3 linked regions of the Homo sapiens genome follow. The protein of the gene in region 3 interacts with the protein of the main gene of each other region in a pairwise test. Each region holds a gene or a part of one and is shown on either strand. Other genes may lie near its edges.

What was found.
Region 1: the proteins of ABHD5 (region 3) and PCNX2 interact in binary tests that used the Homo sapiens proteins (3 or more experiments, as listed by UniProt).
Region 2: the proteins of ABHD5 (region 3) and MIEF1 interact in binary tests that used the Homo sapiens proteins (3 or more experiments, as listed by UniProt).

What each region holds. Positions count from the first base shown.
Region 1 is NC_000001.11:233,289,083-233,292,908, forward strand, and holds part of PCNX2 (pecanex-like protein 2), read right to left. Parts: intron 410-3,826; exon of another isoform or gene 1-409. UniProt on the Homo sapiens protein: May play a role in tumorigenesis of colorectal carcinomas with high microsatellite instability (MSI-H).
Region 2 is NC_000022.11:39,500,025-39,503,624, forward strand, and holds the start of MIEF1 (mitochondrial dynamics protein MIEF1), read left to right. Parts: upstream 1-2,265; 5' UTR 2,266-2,413; intron 2,414-3,600. UniProt on the Homo sapiens protein: Mitochondrial outer membrane protein which regulates mitochondrial fission/fusion dynamics.
Region 3 is NC_000003.12:43,700,890-43,704,715, forward strand, and holds part of ABHD5 (1-acylglycerol-3-phosphate O-acyltransferase ABHD5), read left to right. Parts: intron 1-1,325; coding exon 1,326-1,698; intron 1,699-3,826. UniProt on the Homo sapiens protein: Coenzyme A-dependent lysophosphatidic acid acyltransferase that catalyzes the transfer of an acyl group on a lysophosphatidic acid.

The sequences.
Region 1 (3,826 bases), on a different chromosome or scaffold from region 3:
AGAGTATGGCTCCTGGGATGCTTTTGCTTATATTTTGTACAGCTTTTCCAAGTTGGCTTAGGCAGGATTCTCCTTTAAGCGATAAAGACAACATGCTTCCCACTGAACTTTTTCTCCAATTCACATACTAGCCGGACTTGGATTTTCTGGAAAGATTTCAGTTGAGGAACGGGAACAAAGATTATGATAGCTTTCTGACCACCACCAACCTCAATTTCCTTGGCTGCCATAATATTCAGCTCCCTGAGCTGAGCCTTGAGGTCCAAGTTCATCTCCAGCTCCAGAAGAGCCTGGGAGATGCGGGACTCGAACTCGTCCGGCTTCTCGCCATTAGGCTTCACGATCTTGGCGCTCGTACTGAACATGGCCTTCTCCTGGGAGAACTTGCCGAGCGCCGGCTTAGGAAGAGCAGAAGGATGCCTTTTAAGCAACTCCATGCTGCAGGCTCTTCGCCTGAAATACAACTCTGCTTCAGGCAGGTGAGGGCAGGAGGCAGGAAGCCAGACATTCAGGTAAATTATGGAGATAGTGCAAAGGATCAGGCATCTCAATGCAAGAATAAATAAGGCCCCCAGAAGTGGAAGGACCAAATATCAAGGTTCTGGGAGTCAAAGGAAAGAAAGCATGGACTATGTGATCCATTAACAGAGAAAGCCTTTCTTTTGAGGAAACTGGATAACAATGCTAGGACTGACTAGAACAGAGGTAACCTTTTGAGAATGGCAACGTGCCAAGCAGTTCAAGAGAATAACAACAATCATGTGGAATGGGCCAAGCCTGCTATGCGAGGCTGCGCAGGTTGCATGCTGCACAAAGGTCTCCTGCTGACAGGATTAAATGGGCCAGGAAAGGCTGCCTCTTTGGAGAGGCTACCTTTCCATAATTTACACTAAGTCATCTTATATGTTAAAAGTAGGAGAGGAAGTCTAGGTGAAGCCTGGGGGGCGGGGGGAAAGAAGTAAAGGAGGAAGGAAGGGTGGTCAAAGAAATGCAAAACCTTAAATTCTACTCTCAAACCTGAATATCCAATTGGACCTTCATTTCTTAGGCCTCAGGAAGGGGGTTGGGGTATTAGGGGGTTAGGGGTATGAAGGAGTAGAATAATCCAAGATGCCTAGAGCATGGGGCCCACAACCAGAGCTCCATGGCAACTTTCTTCAAAATGTATATTTAAATTTCTATCAAACTGTAATTTATTATGCAAGGTGAAATATGTAGGAAGAAACAGACCGATGTGTGCAGTTTACTTTGAAATGCATCAAGAAAATAAAGTAGAATAAGGGATCGCTAGAAGGATGGACAAATGGATAGAAAGGTGATAAAGCAAGTAGAGTAAAATGTTCATGGGGTAAACTCAAAGTGCTATGTATATAGCTGCACACAGTAAAATTATTTCAGCTTTGTTGTATGTTTTAAACTTTTTATAGTAAAATCTTGGGAAAACATTGATTGAAAAAAGAGGAATCGAGATCTAAGAAAAAATAATGACACACCAGAATGGGAAACGGCTGCAGACTGTCATAGAAATGTCACCAATTAGCTGTAATAACAATTAGAATGTGTTGGGTGCTTACTATTTGCCTAGTGCTATGCTAGTGCTTGACAGATAATCCTATTAATTATAATTATAGCAATTAGAAATGATGTAGGTCTTATCAAAGAAGGTCTCTAAGATTAAATTTTAAAAAGCAGAACTGGAAACAGAACAAGTCTGGCTAAAGTTAAAGGAAAGGAAACAGAAAGCTCCAGCCATAGAACGAAAGACAGGCTTTCTGTCCACAAGCGGGGAAAGGGCTGCCCATACAAACATATATGCCAGGCCTGGAAAATTAAGTCTAATGTTGCCCGGCATGGGGTCTTGAAGGATGTGAAAGTTCCAACCCATTCTTCCCACCACTCAACTCTTCCTCTCCAGTGGAGTTGACCACAATGCCACTGGCATAATCATAATTCCACTGCAGGTGGCTCCACGGTTTCACAGCCTTCAAAGTGCTCTTATATGTAGTATGTCAGGCAGCATAATGTCCTGGAAGGGCCAAAGACTCGGATGCTACAGGACCTCAGCTAAATGCTGGATTTTACCACTGACTATAGATGACTGTGGGCAAATAGCTGACTCTCCCTGGACCTCAGTTGCTAAACCTATAAAATGAAAGTGTTATCCCCATTTTACAGATGATTAAACTGAGGTCTGGAGAAGTAAGGTGACTTGCATAAGGCCACACAATTGATAAGAGGAAGAACGAGCCAGGCATGGTGGCTCACGCCTGTAATCCCAGCACTTTGAGAGGCCAAGGCGGGCGGATCACCTGATGTCGGGAGTTCAAGACCAGCTTGACCAACATGGAGAAACCCCACCTCTACTAAAAATACAAAATTAGCCAGGGTGGTGGCGCATGCCTGTACTCCCAGCTACTCGGGAGGCTGAGGCAGGAGAATCGCTTGAACCCGGGAGGTGGAGGTTGCGGTGAGCCGAGATTGCGCCATTGCACTCCAGCCTGGGCAACAACAGCGAAACTCTGTCTCAAAAAAAAAAAAAAAAAAAAGAGGAAGAATGGGAACTGTGTCTTTTGACATGAGGCTAGTGCTCTCAGGACTTACACAGGCCAGAATCATGCCCATATGCCCCTGCTGTAAAGAACACTCTGCTCTGAATCTCCATTAATTATCATCTCAAAAGAATAAAGACAAAACACATGTAATAAGTGACAATTTAAATATCTCTCAAGACTAACCATCTTTCAGTTTGTCCAAAAGAAAAGGAGGTTGGGAACTGTGTATTTGACATGAGGCTAGTGCTCTCAGAACTTACACAAGGCCAGAATCATGCCCATATGCCCCTGCTGTAAAGAAAACTGCTCTGAATACTCTTTCCAAGTTATCCAAATTGACTTACTGTTTTCAGTTGTACATTTCCAAACATTTCTCACAAATATATACATAGTTTATAAATGCTAATTAATCACTATTTTCCACATTATCACCCAGATCTAAGTACATTCTAGGGATTATAAATAAATTTGCCTCAATAATTAATAATAAAAATATTTAAAATACTCAAAGTATCTGTTATATTAAAAAGTGGATCCTTTCAATAGTGAAACTTTCTTTCTTTCTTTCTTTTTTTTTTTTTTTTTTTTTTGAGATGGAGTTTTGCTCTGTCACCCAGCCTGGAGTGCAGTGGCGTGATCTTGGCTCACTGCAACCTCTGCCTCCAGGATTCAAGCGATTCTCCTGTCTCAGCCTTCATGAGTCACTGGGATTGCAGGCATGCACCACCACGCCCAGCTAATTTTTTGTCTTTTTAGTAAAGACAGGATTTCACTATGTTAGCCAAGCTGGTCTTGTGCTCCTAATCTCAAGGGATCCACCCAACTTGGCCTCCCAAAGTGCTGGGATTACAGGCATGAGCCACCACACCCAACCAAAACTTTCTTAAACATGTTTAAACTAAAATTGTAAACAAAAAGAAAACAGAAAAGTTCACAGAACTTTGACTAAGCCCCTGCTGTCAGTAAGCAGTCAGGTATCTTCTTGGAACAAATGATTGTAAATGAACAAATTGAAAAAGACATTAACAATCACAGGCAACACTGAAGTGCAGAGGAATATATTTAAGCACGAAGATCTGAAGAACAAAGCCTCCATTTGGGGAAGAGGGCCTTTTATTTCAAGGGCACTTTCAGAAACCAGAAGACCAAAGCAAGAAAAAAATAACCTGTCATGTTTTTAATAACGCAGGCTATATATTAAAAAGTAGCATAACAGTAACTGTACCCACATACAATTATTCTATAATAGTTAAAGGCATGCTGGCATAGAGATA
Region 2 (3,600 bases), on a different chromosome or scaffold from region 3:
ACTTGAACCCGGGAGGCAGAGGCTGCAGTGAGCCAAGATCGCGCCACTGCACTCCAGCCTAAAGACAGAGCGAGACTCCATCTCAAAACAAACAAACAAACAAACAAACAAACACCCTGCAATATCAATCCAAGAGATCCTGGAATGCCTCTTGCCCTGTGAAACCTGGCAGAGCCCTGAGGTTTGGGTCAGTGCCCCCTGCCGTGGGTCTCTGGCCTACAAAGGCACCATGGGTACGTACATGTAAGTGCTAGATACCACCTCACTGCCCACACTCCATTGCCACGGAAGCATCGGGGGCAGGGAGAGGCCTTGTCAGTCTAAGTAAAGATAAGACCCTGAAGAGCAAGTGGATCTAGAGGGGCTGATCCGAAGGGGAGACCCCTCCAAATGACCTCCCTCTGTCCCTCCCTCCGAAAAATAACATTCCATAGAACAAGAAAGTCAGGAGAGATATGAAGAGGTCATCTGGTATGCCGATGGAAATGCCACCAATTATATTTATTTGGGTCACAAAATTCTTTAAAAAGCAAATTAGGGCAGCCTGAAAGAGTGGAAAGAACACACATTTCAGAGTAAGACAGACTTGGCTTCCACTGAAAGCTTCTTTCCTTCTTAGCTCAGTGTCTTAGAAACTACTATGCCTCTCTCCATCTTGGTTTTCTTTTCTTTTCTTTTTCTTTTTTTTGAGACCGAGTCTTGTTCTGTCGCCCAGGCTGGAGTACAGTAGCGTGATCTTGGCTCACTGCAACCTCTGCCTCCCAGGCTCAAGCAATTCTCCTGCCTCAGCCTCCCAAGTAACTGGGATTACAGGTACAATGCCACCACTCCCGGCTAATTTTTGTATTTTTAGTAGAGATGGGGTTTCACCATGTTGGTCAGGCTGGTCTCGAACTCCTGACCTCAAGTAGATCCGCCCACCTCAGCCTCCCAAAGTGCTGGGATTACAGACGTGAGCCACCGTGCCCAGCCCTGCAACAGACTCTTGATTGGTCTCCCTGCCTCAGCCCTGGTTCCATTCCGTTATTCTCAAGCCAGACAGATCCCATTGAAAGGGAAGTCAGATCCCAGCACTTCTTGGCTCTGAACCCTGCTGTGGTTCCTTTGCACCCGCCATCTCCCTCCCAGTTCTGGTAAGGGCCTCCCCTCTGGCCTCTTTCCCAGCTCCTGCTCACTCAGCTGCGAAAGCACTGGCTTTCTCCCTGTGGCTCCTAGACCACGCTGAGCTTAAAGGCTTACCTGGGGGGAGGCCTGAAATGCTCTTCCCTGCAATGTTCTTCTCCTGGTTCTCGTCCTTTTATCAGATAGCCTGACTATTCTGCAATTGCCCACCCCTCTACTGGTAGATATTACCTTTTAATCCTCACCACAGCCCCAAGGCTGGGTGAGGTTAGGAAACTTGGCAGAGGGCAGCTGTCCCTAAGTGGTGGAACTGGAACTAGGAGCCAGCGGTGGCCCCGGTGGCCCCGGACTCCAAAGCCCCAGGCCCTGGGCTTGGCAGAGCCAGGCATGGAGGGAGGCAGTTGGGGGAGGGAGCTTCCATAGAGACACGGCCTCCGTCCTCAAATCTAGTGAGAGACAGAGAAGCAAATGGATAAATTACAGTGCCTGGCATATGGTAGGCGCCAAGAAATACGTTTTGTTGTTGAACAGATTATGAGGCGTAAGATGTGCAGACATTTCCGTGGGGCCCAAAGAAGGCACGTGAGTGTGTTAGAGGGAGGCGAGGAAGGGGCTGGGAGAGATTTCCCAGTGAAGGGGGGCATTTGAGGTAGACTTTGAAGGAAGGGTAGGAGTTTGCCAGAAGCCATGGGGCCTGGGGAGTAGGAACAGCATGGAGGGATGAAAAGAAGGCGATCTGAGAAAATGGGTTTTGAGGAGCTCTGAATATTAGTGTTAGAATTCCCTCAGGTACCCCAGGGCCCCAGCCAGAGATCAGCATATACAGTACAGGAGGCTGGCCAGGTACCCCGACAGGCTAAGGGGTTGCCAGCAGGTGAGGGGCCTACCCGGTGCGGCAGCCTTGTTGGACAGCGAGGCTACCTCCTGCCCTCTGAACTTCTGCCAGCATCGGGACCACCCCGGTACCCACAGCCGGACCCGGACACCGGAGTCCTCTGGGGGCGGGGCGCGAGTGGCCTCTGCAGGCCAGTCCCTTGGTGAGGTCACACACGGAGGCGGGGCTCAGGATTGGGGGGCGGAATCATGCGCAGGGGGCGGGGCCCGAGAGAGAGCTTGGAGAAGACCGGAAGTCCCTCCGCCTCCACTCGCCCTCGTGCTCCCTTCAGCCCCTTCGCAGCTCCGTGCGCAAGGTCGTGTCCCGGAAGTGAAGGGGCCATGTTGATGGGTGACCCGGGGAGAGGTACCCGGCCAGAGGCGAGTCCTGCGGAGTGGTAGCGCGCACGGCCTGCGGGTGAGTGAGAGAAGGAATGAGGGCCGCCGGCGGCTGGGCGGCGGGGAGGTTGCAGCGCCTCCTCTCAGGCTGCTGCCGGCGCCTCGCATGCGGCCCGGAGTCAGGATACCAGCATGCAGCCGGGGGTCTCGCCCCATCCCGCCCTGGACTTTCCCCTGGGAGACCCCTCGGCTGCCCCGCCCCGCCCCAACCTCGGAGACCTCCAGTGCCCCGAAGCAGGCCTGCCCTGGCCTCTGGGCCTCCGCACCCCGGCCCGGCCCCCACGGTTGGTGAAGTGCAGACTGGCTGGGGCTCAGCCGCCCAGTCGCCCAGCGACCTTGTAGTTACAGCCCTCGCCGTGACAGTCGCCTTTTACAGCATCAAACACTTCTGTTGATTTTCTGCATCGGGAGGTCCTTAGGGCCGAGGGATCTCTTAAACAGTTGAGGAAAAATGGGCAGGGATGGTGGCTTGCTCAAGCTTGCGCAGGAAGTTAGCAAGGCCGGAGGCTAAGGGCTCGCGGACTTTGGGCCCAAAGTCCAATCTTTTTTTCCAGCCAAATACTTCCCCCACTTGGTGTCATTTCTTTATTTCTGAAACGGAGGTGATCATTTCTTCCACATAGGGACGTTGTGAAATTCTCTCCGTTACGCATAATTTTGAGCCCCTTGTATGTGCCAAGCGCTGTGCTGGGAAAGTTCGTGGAGCACCCAGAAGTGCTGTACACACGGTCCGGCTCCAGCAAAGGGTAACTCATTCCAGAGGCAGGCAGAGTTGGGGTCAGGAGTGCAGCCCTCCCCTTGACAGCTGTGGGCCCGCGGGCAAGTTACTTCCCTCTGGGAGATTGTTTCCTCCACTTAAAATGGGGTAATGTTGACCCCTAGGGTAGCTGACAGAATGAGTTGTTATGTGAGACATGCTTCGAACATTGCACGTTGTATATAGTGCAATATAATGCAATAAGCATTTACTGTTACTAAGAACCCTGACCACCTTCTAGATTCTTAATTTAAATGTGGTCATGGGCAACAAAGCACTTTACAGATATGCTTGTGTAAGGGTTTATTGTTACTGAAGGAAGGCAGTGGCAGTTTATACTTAAATGTAATTATTTATTGAGCATTTACAAACCTGGCTAGGTGCTACTAATAATATCTGCTGTTGATAGAGTGCTTCGTGTGTGCCAAGTGCTGTTCTAAACATATTCA
Region 3 (3,826 bases):
ACATGATAATGAACTTCTATTCCATATACTTGGGTAAACTTGCTCTCTACAAAACTAAGAAAGATGTCATTGTGATTTACCAAAATAAAAAAATTCTTATCAGGAGGTAAAAAAGGGGTGCTAGATTCTCAATTCATGCATTTAACAGACATAATGATTCCCTTCCTTTTGGTTCTAGGGATGCAAATAGGAATGTGAATTGGTCTCTGCTTTAGTGTCAGACATGAAAGTAAGCTACGGTGGAGTGAGTTCTCTAATAGTTATACAGATGGTTTTTATGGGAATACACAGACGTATGTGTTCAAAATGCTGAAGTGGTTTGGCTTGGCACTTAAGCCAAAGCAGCCCCTTTTCTAAACTAGTGGTATTTCCCCCAACTTGAGGGCTTGTGCTCCATTAATATTCTGAATGAATGTTAGGTTTCTTCTTTGCTGCCACTATGTGGATACAAAACATGATATTATTTCTTTGGTTAAAAGGCAGAAACTCCTGTTTCTTCAGTGTCTTGTTTACTGTATATGAATATGCATAAATAATTAAGGGGTATATCAAAAATGCAGCTGTTCAGTTGATAGTTAAATATAAATGATTTCAAATTTAATTTCATTTTTAGGCAATTTTTGGGAGTGTTTAAAGTATTTAGTTCCACAACATTAAAGGTAAAAAAGAGTTTTGGTCTATAAAATTGTGACTATTTGCTTTTTCTAGGAGATTACTAGAGTTGGACCCAAGTTACCTGGTGTGTCATGCTGAGGAGTTCCTACAATACTTTGTCAACCTTTTTTTGAAATGACTTAAGGTTTCACTTACATGTTTAACATAGATACCAGTAATCCTTCCCTAAATTCATGACTACTTTTTAAGGAAAAATGATGCCTTTAAGCCTGACTTCAACTCAAAGTTAACCAAAGAATACCACCTTGAAATTGTAGAACACCTGACAGTATTCTACAAATTCTCTGCAAAGCTAGAGACCTTAAAATAATGGGTTCGGTAACCACTAAGTTCCTTTTCACTTCTAGGAGTATAATACCCTCATTTGACAGATGTGGAAAGAAGTTAGAAGGTAATATGACTTGCCAAAGACCTTGATCACAGGTTACTTGAGGTTTGTCTGAGGTAGGTCTTCCCCTTTAGGTGTAAAACATGGTCATTTAGGATTATTTACTTCAATAAAATGTGTACTTTTTAAAAATAGCTGACAATACAAGCTAAAATCATGAGATTGGATACTAGATGATTTGTAATTTTTGGTTGCTCTGAGAATACTTCCCTTCTCAGAAGTAATAAAATGAAACAGAATTTCTCTTTTATGTTTTCATTAGGTGTGCCTTGCACATACAAAAAAGAACCTGTTCGTATATCTAATGGAAATAAAATATGGACACTGAAGTTCTCTCATAATATTTCAAATAAGACTCCACTTGTCCTTCTCCATGGTTTTGGAGGAGGTCTTGGGCTCTGGGCACTGAATTTTGGAGATCTTTGCACCAACAGACCTGTCTATGCTTTTGACCTATTGGGTTTTGGACGAAGTAGTAGACCCAGGTTTGACAGTGATGCAGAAGAAGTGGAGAATCAGTTTGTGGAATCCATTGAAGAGTGGAGATGTGCCCTAGGATTGGACAAAATGATCTTGCTTGGGCACAACCTAGGTGGATTCTTGGCTGCTGCTTACTCGCTGAAGTACCCATCAAGGTAAGTGGTGGTGACAGAAGAGAGGGATTATAACTGTGCTTCCAAGTACCAGACTCTAGTTCCCATCTTTGGTGGTTGTTAGTGTCTGAGCCACAAGGCAGACATTCTCTTAAAGGACCCTATAGACCACACCACAACTGATGACCAATATAGTAGCTGAAATAATCATGTCAGATCTTCCTATTACACGTACTACATGTTAATAGGCTTGGGAAAGGGGTTTCTATTTGTTAAGCTTAGAATTGTAGAAACTTTAATGTATAATTTTAAGCCACAAGTAAAAATTATTTATTATTATTATCATTAAACCTATGAATCCAGCAGGCTTCGTCTAATGTTTTCTAAGTTATAGTAAGCTGTAAGGGGAAACCAGAAGGTTAGAAGATGTAGGTACTAGTGCTAGCTCTATGACTTAGAGCAAATCACTTAACCTCTAACCTTTAGTTTTCTTTTACCTAAACTATAGAAAATACAACTTCATAGCATATATCCCAGGGTTTTTTATTATACCATACCCTAACCTTTCTCATTATAAAACATTGAATTAATGAACATTTGCTTCAAAGTCTTTCTAGCATCATCTCCTTTCTTTAACTTTTTTTTTTTTTAAGAGATAGAAGCTCGCTCTGTCACCCAGGCTGGAGTGCAGTGACATGATCTCGGCTCACTGCAGCCTCCGCCTCCCAGGCCCAAGCAATTCTTCTGCCTCAGCCTTTGAATAGCTGTGACTACAGGTGCATGCCACCACACTCAGCTAATTTTTGTAGTTTTAGTAGAGATGGGGTTTCGCCATGTTCGCCAGGCTGGTCTCAAACTCCTGACCTCAAGTGATCCACCCCCCTCGGCCTCCCAAAGTGCTGGGATGACAGACCTGAGCCACTGCACCCAGCCCCTTTACGTTATTTTTAAATGCTATTTACTGTCATTCATGTTACTACTCTGAGAGAGGGTCACATTTAAGTGCTAAGAAAACAGGAGAAAAACTCATCTTTGTTTTGATCATCTTTTGGAAAGAAACAACAAAAAATGAATACAGCATTTTTGTGTTGCCAGTGTATTTTTCCATTGGACTGATTTTTAAATCCAAAATTGCAACTGATTTTGACTTTGAGGTCCGTGAGTGAGACATGGGATGATGGTCATTTCAGAGTGCCTGTATGTACCTATAAGATCTCCCCATTGCATAACTCTGGGTGTGTGTTCAACACAGAATTTGATGTGTGAAGCAGCAGCCCTGTGTACCTGAGGTTCTCTTCCTCTGGAACAGCCACTTTTTCTCTATAGACTCTTTATCTAAACTTTAGCATTTACACCTGATTTTTCTGATCTCATGGTCCTATATGTGCTAGACAATAATAGTCCTGTCAACTGGCGGACCTGTTCTTTAAAAAGAAATGCAAATTTTCTTCTCCTGGTTGGCATTTTGGGGTTACTTTCTTTATTTTCTTTTTTTTTTTTTTTTTTTTTTGAGCCGGAGTCTCACTCGGTCGCCCAGGCTGGAGTGCAGTGGCGCGGTATCTCGGCTCACCGCAACCTCCGTCTCCCAGGTTCAAGCAATTCTCCTGCCTCAGCCTCCCGAGTAGTTGGGATTACAGGAGCCCGCCACCACACTGGCTAATTTTTGTATTTTTAGTAGAGACAGGGTTTCACCATGTTGGCCAGGCTGGTCTCAAACTCTTGACCTCAGGAGATCCGCCTGCCTTGGCCTCCCAAAGTGTTGGGATTACAGGCATGAGCCACCGCACCCGCTGGTGTTACTTTCTTTTATTGTGTCCTACTCTTAGTGACAAACACCTATTTGCATTTATGGTGAAAGGAGAAGGAAGTAGATGCTTTTCTGGTACAAGTCAACAGGGCTATTTGTGGGAGTTGAACTTCCTTTGTTTTTTATCAGGTATGTATTATGTCTGTGTCTGTCTTGTGGTATTTATTCTCTGAAGATGTGACATGGAACTCTGCAGGCTAGACCTTGGTCATTAAACCCTAAGTCTTAGAATCCTGACCCTTCATAGCTCTCTACTGATAAGGTCAGTTGGCAAGAGTTTCATTTGCAATTGTGAACTGCTCTAAAGAAATAGGGGGCTTCAGGGATTCAGAAGGGAATCAACACTTTAAAAACATTATAAAA